2 separate regions of the Homo sapiens genome follow, and region 2 is linked to region 1. The links come from fine-mapping of genetic effects on gene expression. A gene starts in region 1. The other region holds a variant in brackets. All regions are shown on one strand. Distances are between the middles of the regions.

Region 1 (5,382 bases):
GGGGGTAACTGCCCCCAGGATCCAATTACCTCCCACAGGGTCCCTCCCATGACACGTGGGGATGACAGAAACTACAACTGAGATTTAGGTGGGGACACAGCCAAACTGTATCAGTCAGGAACCAGGGTCAAAGGCCAAATACATATTTCTTATTACACTACAACTGGTTGATCACTATACAATATTTTTTTACAACTAGTTGTTAGTACTACTTCTGATCTCATCAGAAAAATCTTTAAATATTGGGAAGCTGTCAAACTTACAGTGATGGATACAGGTTTTGCAAAAGTCTGATTTTTCACTTGAAAGCTTGAATGTTATCACAGACAACAAACACTATCATTTGTTTTTCTTGAAGTGACAGGCCCATGTCATTCATTTTGGAGGAAATGTCTGCCAAATGCCCAAATCTGGGTAACTGCAGTTTGTCTGTCAGTTCTGCTTTCAAGTAAAACTGGCGTTCCATAAAAAAGAGCTGCAGCTTGTGCATTGCAGGCCATTGCACAATGGCACGGCCTTCAGCAACCATCATCCTTGGGATGCAGCAGGATTGTTTCTGTGCATTTCCCACCCTGTCATGAGGGACATGACTGCTTCACGGGGGACATTCTTCAGTGACACTTTGTGTTTGTTTTTACTGCAAGTGCATGGTGGTGAAGGATGCAGTTACTACTGATTTGGTGTTGTCCCACTGCTGGGATTTGTGCTTACTTTTGCACAATCAGAGCAAATGTCTACATTGTAAAGAGGACAAATAATGTCCCAGTTCAACTATGAAAACAGTTTTGTCATTGCAGATCCTCTGAAAGGATCTTGGAGACTCCTAAAGATCCACTTTTTGGAGATCACTCTTTGCGAACTGCTATTTTAGAAACAATCCTCCTGCTACAAAGACTAAATATTTGGCTCACACGTGTAATCCCAGCACTTTGGGAGGCTGAGGCGGGTGGATAACTTGAGGTCAGGAGTTTGAGACCAGCCTGGCTAACATGGTGAAACCCCGTCTCTACTAAAAATACAAAAATTAGCCGGGTGTGGTGGCACGCACCTGTAATTCCAGCTACTTGAGAGACTGAGACAGGAGAATCACTTGAACCCAGGAGGCAGAGGTTGCAGTGAGCTGGGATGGCACCACTGCACTCCAACCTGGGCGACAGAGCGAGATTCCGTCTCAAAAAAAAAAAAAAGACTAAATACTAATATTTTCCTAGACATTCATTTATAGGAAAAAAAGAGGAACTATTTTGAAAAACTCCAACAAAAAAAACCAAAAAACCTCAGTTACCTTAGTTGTCAATGTGTAAGCCTCTAGAACAAACTCCATCTTTTAAAGTTTTGAACAGTATCTTGGGAATGCAGTAATAACAGTGACAATAGTGTGTGTTTGTTGCAGTGTTTACTACTGCGGGATGACTGTGCTTTGTATTTTAAATGCATCCTCTACAATATTCTTTAGTACCACACTTTTTTTTTTTTTTTTGAAGGAGTTTCACTCTTGTTGCCCAGGCTGGAGTGCAGTGGCGAGATCTCGACTCACCGCAACCTCCGCCTCCTGGGTTCAAGCAATTCTCCTGCCTCAGTCTCCCGAGCAGCTGGGATTACAGGCACGTGCCCCCACTCCTGGCTAATTTTTTTTGTAGTTTTATTAGAGACAGGGTTTCTCCATGTTGGTCATGCTGGTCTCGAACTCCCGACCTCAGGTGATCCACCTACCTCCGCCTCTCAAAATGTTGGGATTACAGGCGTGAGCCACCACGCCCGGCCTAGTACCACATTCTGTAGATGAGAAGACTGGGACACAGAGAGATGAGAGTGTGACAAGGTCAACAGTCATATGCAGTGACTAAGGCTCTGAATCCACGTGGTCTGATTCCCAGAGCCTTGATCCTTAAATCCTGCATAATATGCTGCATCACATCCAAGCTTCACATTTACTTACTTCTTTTCTGCCGTGCACGTGTATCGATTCAAATCCTCAAAGGGAAACCCAATGTCTCATCTCAACCACAGGGCCCCAAAAAAGGGCTCAGTAAACGTCTTCTGCATGAGGGACAGAACCTTTAAACCATGATTAGTAATGGGGCTAGAAGTGAAATACTCAAACAGCCAGCTCCCTCAATATTATTAACTCATTAAGGAGGGAACCAATAAAAAAGAAAAAAAACAAAAACAAAAACGCTTGTTCCTTGAAAGCTTTGAAAAATTGTGTGTGTGTGTGTGTGTGTGTGTATACATACACGTATCTATTTTACTTGTTTGCTAAATAGACACAGATATAGTCGGGTAGTTAACAAACATGTAGGTTGTATAAAAATAAAACTAGTTTATCTTCTTTGGGGCAATAAAATCCCAATACCTTTGAGGTTGACTCAGGCCTTATCCATTTCTGCAGGTTAAGAAGTTACAATTCTTCAGGTCTGTAAACTGGTCAGGCCGTTATCATTGTCCTTCGTTAATCCACTGTACCTAGACAACAGTTACATCCCCAACCCGGACAGCCAAGGGGGTTCTTTAAAGAATAGAACGTCCCCCTTTTACTAAGTAGGCTTATTAGAAAATGCTAGAAGTTACCCTTAACGCAAGCAAGTGGCCTTTTTCCAAGTTGGGGATTTAAGAAATTTACTTATCTATTTTTTGTATTTTTCCAAGGTGGTTTTGTGTGTGTGTGTGACTTTGTTGTTGTTTTGGTTTGGTTTTTTGCCTTTTTCCAAGTTTGGGATTTTTTTTCTTTCTCAAAAAGCGAACCTGTTTTCTGGATGGAGGCCCAGCGGGACTTGTTCCGGCCGCAGGTCTCGGTCAGAAAGAACGCTTTTGCAGCGGCAGAAAGGGAGACTCGGGATCCGGGCCTGGGGTCCCGCGGCCGCGCCCCTCCCCACTCCCCGCGACCCGCTGGAACGCGCACGGCCGGGGACGGCGGCGGGGACGCGCGCGGGCAGGCGGCGCGCACGGCCGGATAGGCGCGAGGGGGCCGCGTGAGGCGGTGCCGGCGTTCTGGCCCCCAAAGCCGGTCTAGCGCGCCGGGCGTCTTCCTTACTTCCGCTGCCGCCGCCGCCACATCCCGGGACCCGACGGGCCGCGGCGCGGAGGCCTCGGGGCAAGGTGGGGCGGGCCTCCCGAGCTCCCAGGACCCCGCGCGCTTCGCCCACAGGCCCGGCGAAGCCCGACCCGCGCGGCGCCCCCAGGGCCAGGGGAGGAGCCTAAGGACCCGGACGAGCGCCGCTCCAGTAGGGTGAGCTCGGGGACGCGCAGGCGGGTGGGTTTCAGCGCCTGGGCCCCTCTCCCCGCCGCGGGGCGCACGGAAAAACCGGGGAACCCGCGGGTTTTGTCCTGGCGAGCCACATCCCGGTGTGTTTTGGCGACTTGAAGACCTCCCTAGTTCGCGGGAGTAGCGGGAAGAGCCTTCCTCGCGTTAATTATGCAATAAGAAGGCGTCCTTGTGCGGGATGCTGTGACCCGCGGAATTATTGATATTGTGCGAGCCTACAATTTACTTCTTTCATCCTTGGCTGAGAATTTGCGTTTGTAATTGTAGATGGAGAGAGGAAGAAAGGGTTCAGCTTGGGTCCAAGGAGCATGCAGAGGAAGGCAGGGAAGAAGGAGCATGTGCAGCTTCGGTGCGAGGGGAGTCAGGGGTGGGAATGCACGTTCCCTGCCTGAGGGGCCCCGGGGTGCCCTGAGCCTCTGATCTTCGCTGTCAGGAGGCCTGTCCGAAGTTGGAGGTTGAGGCATGCAGTTCTGCACTTCTGGCTGGGAAGGTGAACCAGGTTTTCCAAAATGTCATTTTTGCTTTCCAAGTCTGCAAGGCAGGAAAGGGTTGGGCAGTGAATGGAAAGTAGTGCAGCCAGGTTCTGGTTAGCTCAGCGGCAGGACTGTCATAACGGTGGGTTTTTGTTGTTGTTGTTGTTGTTGTTGTTTTGTCTGAAAACCAGAGTCTGGGGCTTTGGGCCATGAGGAGTTGGGTTATTGCATTGCTTAGAGTGCCAGAGTGAGAAATGTCTCAGACGCTGTTAAAATTAGGCAGCTCAGTTTAGCTCTGGCTCTCTGATAACCAACCACCTCCTCCTTCACTCTTTTCAGTGACTGGGTTAAAATGAAAAGACACAAAGAGAGAAGTGGTCTTTTCCCTTCCCTCCCCATTATAATTAAGAGCTTAGTCCATCTTGGCTCAGAATTGGAATTCAGAATTCAGAATTGCTCTTGACCCTGAAGAATAGAATCTCAAAGAAATACCTGAGCAGAAAATTCTCTTCTTCGCTGAAATGAAAATTGGAGTGTTTGCAAAACTGAACAAAGAAAGGAAAGAATTTGTAAACATCACAGGCAACTTGCAGTTATATTCGGATCATTTTTCAGTGTTTGAGGAGTTCATACAATAAAAAGGTGAGAGAGAGCCAGGAATAGAAACAGGGGAGAGAGGTGGTTGCAGGACCTTAGAGATTGCAGAAACCCAGGAGTTCATTTTCTTTTCATACACTTCTGGATAACCTGGATGTGAGGACCATCAAATGCCGTACATGATGTTTCTAACAATGATGGACCACATATACAACAGTGGTCCCATAAGACTATACTACCTTATTTTTACTCTACCTTTTCTAATTTTAGATACACAAATACTTACCATTGTATTACAGATGCTTACAGTATTCAGTACAGTAACAGCAGTACAAGTTAGTAGCCCGGGAGCAATAGATGATTCCATATAGCCTAGGTGTGTGGTCAGCTGTACCATATAGCCTAGGTGTGTGGTTAGCTGTACTATCTAGGTTTATGTAAGAACGCTCTGATGTTTGCAGAAGAACATCGCCTAACGATACATTTCTCAGAAGGTATCCCTATTGTTAAGTGATGAATGACTGTATATAAAGCTTAATCTTTCAATCAACATAATAGGAAATTGCTTTTAATTTTAGCATTGAGTTCTTAGAGTAAAGGGAGGCAGAGAGAGACCGTGCTGCATGTGTCCCAGTCAGCTTGGGCTTTATTGTATGTTAAATGAGTTGTATGTTTATTTTGGTAGATCTCCTAAATCCATGATCTAATTCCATGACTTTGGCTTGTTTCTGGTTTTTTATGATATGGCATTTGGCTAAAATTTTCCAGGTGCTAAAGGTGTAAGGAGTACGAAAATCCAGAGAACATTTTGCATTGGAAGAATTGATCATCTTGTATAGGAATCCTATAACTATTTCAAACATACGAAACAGGCATAATTGGATTTGATTATTTTTGCTACAAAAAATGTTTCATTTTTCACACTAAGTTACATGGAAGAGTCTTTTAAACAGCTAGTGGTTTTGGTACATTTAGAATATTCATTTACCAAGAAATCCAAATATAACCTGCCTTTGTAAGAGACCCATTCTGCCAAATATATTTGAA
Region 2 (5,382 bases), 54 kb after region 1:
AGTCTTGCTAAAGTTTTATTAATATTAATTTTTTTCAAAGCTTTTTGTTTCATTGATTTTCTCTATTAGTGTCTTATTTTCAATTTTATTTTTCTCTCATCTTTATTTTTGTCTTTTTTCTTTGGAATATTTTTGCTCTTCTTCTACTTGATCAGATATTAATATAGCCTACTTTTTAAAAAACTTTTTTTTTTTGAGATGGAGTCTGACTCTGTCACCCAGGCTGGAGTACACTGGCGCAACCTCAGCTCCCTGCAACCTCCGCCTCCCTGCAACCTCTGCCTTCCAGGTTCAAGAGACTCTCCTGCCTCAGCCTCCCAAATAGCTGGGGTTACAGGTGTCCACCATGATGCCTGGCTAATTTTTGTGTTTTTAGTAGAGACAGGGTTTCACCATGTTGGTCAGGCTGGTCTCAATCTCCTGAGCTCAGGCGATCCACTTGTCTCAGCCTCCCAAAGTGCTGGGATTACAGGTGTGAGCCACCATGCCTGGCCTTAGATGTTGGCTGGGCGTGGTGGTGGGCGCCTGAAGTCCCAGCTACTTGGAAGGCTGAGGCAGGAGAATGGCATGAACCCGAGAGGCGGAGCTTGCAGTGAGCAGAGATCACTACAGCCAGGGTGACAGAGCGAGACTCCGTCTCAAAAAATAAATAAATAAATAAATAAATAAATAAATAAATGCACTTTAATAATTTTAACTTAATGTCAGGAATGAAATAGATATCACAATAAATTTAAATTTTTAACAATTTTAGCTATTAGACTTTTAATTTTAAAATTCATGTTTGCATGGTATATCTTTCTGTATCATTTTTTTTATGTATTTATTTTTTTGAGATGGAATCTCGCTCTGTTGCCCAGGCTGGAGTGCAGTGGCATGGTCTCAGCTCACTGCAACTTCCACCTCCGGGTTTGAAGTGATTCTTCTGCCTCAGCCAACCTGCCTAATGTCACTGAATTTTAAACAGCAGATAATTAGTTTTTTTTAATACATATTTGGTTAGTTTCTGTGTTGTAGGAAGTCAGGGACCCCGAATGGAGGGACCGGTTTACCAGGACCCATGTCTGCCAGTAACCATAAAGTTGACTGTTTGGTCTCTTTTGCAACCCAAGAAGCTCAGGAGTTCCATAATCTCACTCATGTCAATGCTGCTGGATTAAAAGATAAATTTGCTCTTACCTGGAAACAGGCTAAGTTTATTGTTCACAGCTGCCTTCAGTGTCAAGTCTTTGTACTTCTAAACCAGGAACCTGGCGTTAATCCCAGAGGCCTAATTCCTAATGCTTTATGGCAAATGGTTGTGACTCATGTGAGCTCCTTTGGCAGACTGTCATATGTGCATGTTTCTGTAGACACCTTCTCAGGTTTTAACTGGGCTACTTGCCAAACAGGGGAAGGCACGGCCCATGTTACAAAACATCTGTATTCTTGCTTTGCAGTTATGGGGCTTTCATATCAAATTAAGACAGACAACGCCCCTGGATGTGTTAGTAAGGCTTTTGATTTATTTATGCAACAGTGGGGAATTTCCCATATTACTGGAATCCCTTACAATCCTCAGGGACAGGCTGTGGTGGAACGGGCCAATCACACTTTAAAAGCCCAATTGTCCAAATAGTCTGACCAACAAAAACATAATTTAACTACCCCCCACTCCCAATTACATTTGGCATTGTTTACTTTAAATTTTTTAAATGTCCCTAAGAATAATAATCTAACTGCAGCCAAACGCCATTATACAGGCAAAAAATTCTCCCTAAACGAAGGCAAGCCAGTGTTATGGAAAAACTCCCAAAGTAATACTTGGGAACCTGGCACAATTATAACGTGGGGAAGAGGATATGCTTGTATTTCACCAGGAGATCATCAATCCCCTGTCTGGGTACCCACCAGGAGACTCAAGCTTCGGGTGAATACTGACAATGAAAACCACAGGGAAAAGACGTCTGTGTCAGAGACCGCCCTCAGACGTGGTGAGATCTGTGCCGACTCCTCAGAAGCAGGCACACCAAATCACAATGGGTCTGATTCAACCCTCCCTAATGGCAATGGAGACCCATCTAACTAATCCCACTTCTCCTGATTACCTTTCTTTTTCTCCTTACAAACCTAAAAATCTCACTATTTCTATTAGCCTGAAAATAACATCCCTCTGTTCTCTTCCTCCTTCAGCACTGAATCTCGCTTACAGTAGGTTTTATTTAATGATTCTCCTCCTTATACTTTCTGTCTCACCAGTTTCCTCTCACACTGATTTACCTGCTACACATAATTATTCTTATGTGCCTTTTCCTCCACTTATTCGACCTCTTACCTGGATAGATGCTCCTGCAGAAATCTACACTAATAATAGTGTGTGGATGCCTGGAGCTATAGATGACCATTGCCCTGCTCAACCAGGAGAAGAAGGCACTGCATTTAATGTTACCATGGGTTATAAATATCCTCCTCTGTGCCTCGGACATGCACCTGATTGTATCCATCTAGAAACTCAAATCTGGGCTGCTTATCTTCCAGAGAGATCAGCTACAGAGGAACCGGGACATTTGGTCTCTGGCCTCTCCCTTTCTCCTTTAAAACAAATGAAAGGGGGAGTAATTGGAGATACCCCATACTTTCAATATAAACCTGCAGGAAAACCATGCCCTAAAAATTTTGAGGGCCCATCTAAAAGTTTAATTTGGGAAGACTGTGTTATCTCACATGCAGTAATATTAAAAAATGACTCATATGGTTTAGTAATAGACTGGACACCAAAGGCCTATTTAAAAAACAATTGCTCCTCTGGTGGAAGGGAATGCCTGGAGGCTACTTATTTTATTTCTTATTGGGAGAATGAGAATCATCATTCTACTTTGCATAGGAGGTTCAGCTCATTCTTTCCCTTAAAATGGGAAGATAAAGGCATTACCCCCCGACTGAGGCCTCGTATGATACTCCCCATTCTGAGCCCAGAACACCCAGAACTTTGAAAATTGGCTATTGCCATGTCTGGACTGTGAGTATGGG[T/C]AGGGGAAACTATTCTGTCTGTTGTCTCCACTACCGTCCCCCTCTCTCAGTATCAGCGTAGATCCAGACATTCTGCTTTACTTACCTCCAACCTGACTGTTCCCATACAGAGTTGTGTTAAGCCTCCTTACATGCTGTTAGCAAGAAATATCAAAATTTTGATGAACAATCAAACTATCCAATGCATTAATTGTCATTTATACACTTGTATTAACTCCCATTTTGACTCCAGAAAAAGTGTAATGTTGGTTCGAGCTCGAGAAGGAATCTGGATTCCAGTAACTTTGCCCAGAGCTTGGGAATCCTCCCCCTCAATACATTTAATTAATGAAGTGTTACAGCAAATTCTAAAAAGATCTAAGAGATTTGTTTTCACTTTAATCTCTGTGATCATGGGCCTAATTACAGTCACTGCAATGGCCACCACTGCCGGAATGGCGTTACATCACTCTATTCAAATGGCTCATTTTGTTAATGATTGGCAAGCCAATTCCACCTAAATGTGGAATTCTCAACAAGGCATTGATCAAAAATTGGCTAATCAAATTAATGATTTAAGACAGTCTGTTATTTGGCTTGGAGATAGGGTGGTGAGTCTCGAACATCGCGTGCAAATGCAGTGCGATTGGAATACTTCGGATTTCTGTATCACCCCGTATTCCTATAATGAGACTGATCCTTCATGGGAAATGGTCAAAGGACACCTTCTGGGTAGGGAAGATAATTTATCATTGGACATAACTGAATTAAAGAAACAAATTTTTGCAGCCTCTCAAGCTCACTTATCCATTGTGCCTGGAGCTGAGGCATTAGATCAGGCAGCAGAAAATCTTTCTGGACTAAACCCCACAACTTGGATTAAGTCTATTGGGGGCTCCACTGTAGTAAATTTTGGAATTATGTTTCTCTGTTTAATTGGCTTGTTTTTAGTGTGCCAGACCAGTCAAAGAATCTTGCATCAAAATCGAGAGAACGAACAAGCCTTCATCGCCATGGCACATTTATATAAAAAGAAAGGGAGAGATGTTGCAGGAAGTCAGGGACCCCAAAAGGAGGGGCCAGCTGAAGCCATGGCAGAAGAACATAAATTGTGAAGATTTCATGGACATTTATCACTTCCCCAATCAATACTCTTGTGGTTTCCTATGCCAGTCTTTAATCTCTTAATCCCGTCATCTTCGTAAACTGAGGATGAATGTCGCCTCAGGACCCTGTGATGATTGCGTTAACTGCACAAATTGTTTAAACAATTTGAAATCTGGGCACCTTGAAAAAAGAACAGGATAACAGCGATGTTCAGGGAACAAGGGAGATAACCATTAGGTCTGGCTGCCTGTGGGCTGGGCAAAACAGAGCCATATTTCTCTTCTTTCAAAAGCAAATAGAAGAAATATTGCTGAATTATTTTTCTTAGCAAGGAACATCCCTGAGGAGAATGCGTTCCTAGAGGGAGGTCTCTAAAATGGCTGCTCTGGGAACGCCTGTCTTTTACAGTTGTAGATAAGGGATGAAATAAGCCCCAGTCTCCCGTAGCACTCCCAGGCCTATTAGGACGAGGAAATTCCCGCCTAATAAATTTTGGTCAGACTGGTTGTCTGCTCTCAAACCCTGTCTCCTGATAAAATGTTATCAATGACAATGCATGCCCAAAACTTCATTAGCAATTTTAATTTCACCCCGCTCCTGTGATCTCGCCCTGCCTCCATTTGCCTTGGGATATTTTATTACCTTGTGAAGCAGGTGATCTCTGTGACCCACACCCTATTTGTACACTCCCTCCCCTTTTGAAAATCACTAATAATAACTTGCTGGTTTTGCAGCTTGAGGGGCATCACGGAACCTGCCGATATGTGATGTCTCCCCTGAACACCCAGCTTTAAAATTTCTCTTTTGTACTCTTTCCCTTTATTTCTCAGATTGGCCGACACTTAGGGAAAATAGAAAAGGACCCACGTTGAATATCGGGGGGCTGGTTTCCCCAATATCTCTGTCTTTTGGTTTACTTAGACCATTTACATTTGAGGTAATTATTATTATTATTATTATTATTATTGAGACGGATCTCACTCTGTTGCCCAGGCTGTAGTACGGTGGCATGATCTTGGCTCACTGCAACCTCCACCTCCCAGGTTTAAGCAATTCTCTTGCCTTGGCCTCTGGAGTAGCTGGGACTACAGGCACGTGACACCACACCCAACTAATTTTTTGTATTTTTAGTAGAGATGGGATTTCACCAAGTTGGCCAGGCTGGTCTCGAACTCCTGACCTCAGGTGATCTGCCCACTTTGGCCTCCCAAAGTGTGCTGAGATTACAGGCATGAGCCACCATGCCTGGCCTTCATTTGAGGTAATTATTCATATGTTTGTGCTTAT

The links. PIP is the estimated chance that this variant, and not a neighbour inherited with it, causes the effect.
Region 2: its variant is the best candidate, but not a certain one, in a credible set for the expression of CHST10 in whole blood (INTERVAL, PIP 0.53).

What each region holds. Positions count from the first base shown.
Region 1 is chr2:100,415,221-100,420,602 of GRCh38, reverse strand. It overlaps CHST10 (carbohydrate sulfotransferase 10), which reads left to right and starts at 2,935. Exons shown (of 7, transcript NM_004854.5): 1 at 2,935-3,229. RefSeq lists silencers at 2,830-3,279, 3,290-3,439.
Region 2 is chr2:100,361,599-100,366,980 of GRCh38, reverse strand. No RefSeq gene overlaps it. Among named protein-coding and RNA genes, the nearest start is that of LONRF2, 42 kb to the right of the region's middle. The variant T/C (reference allele first, on the strand shown) is at 3,010.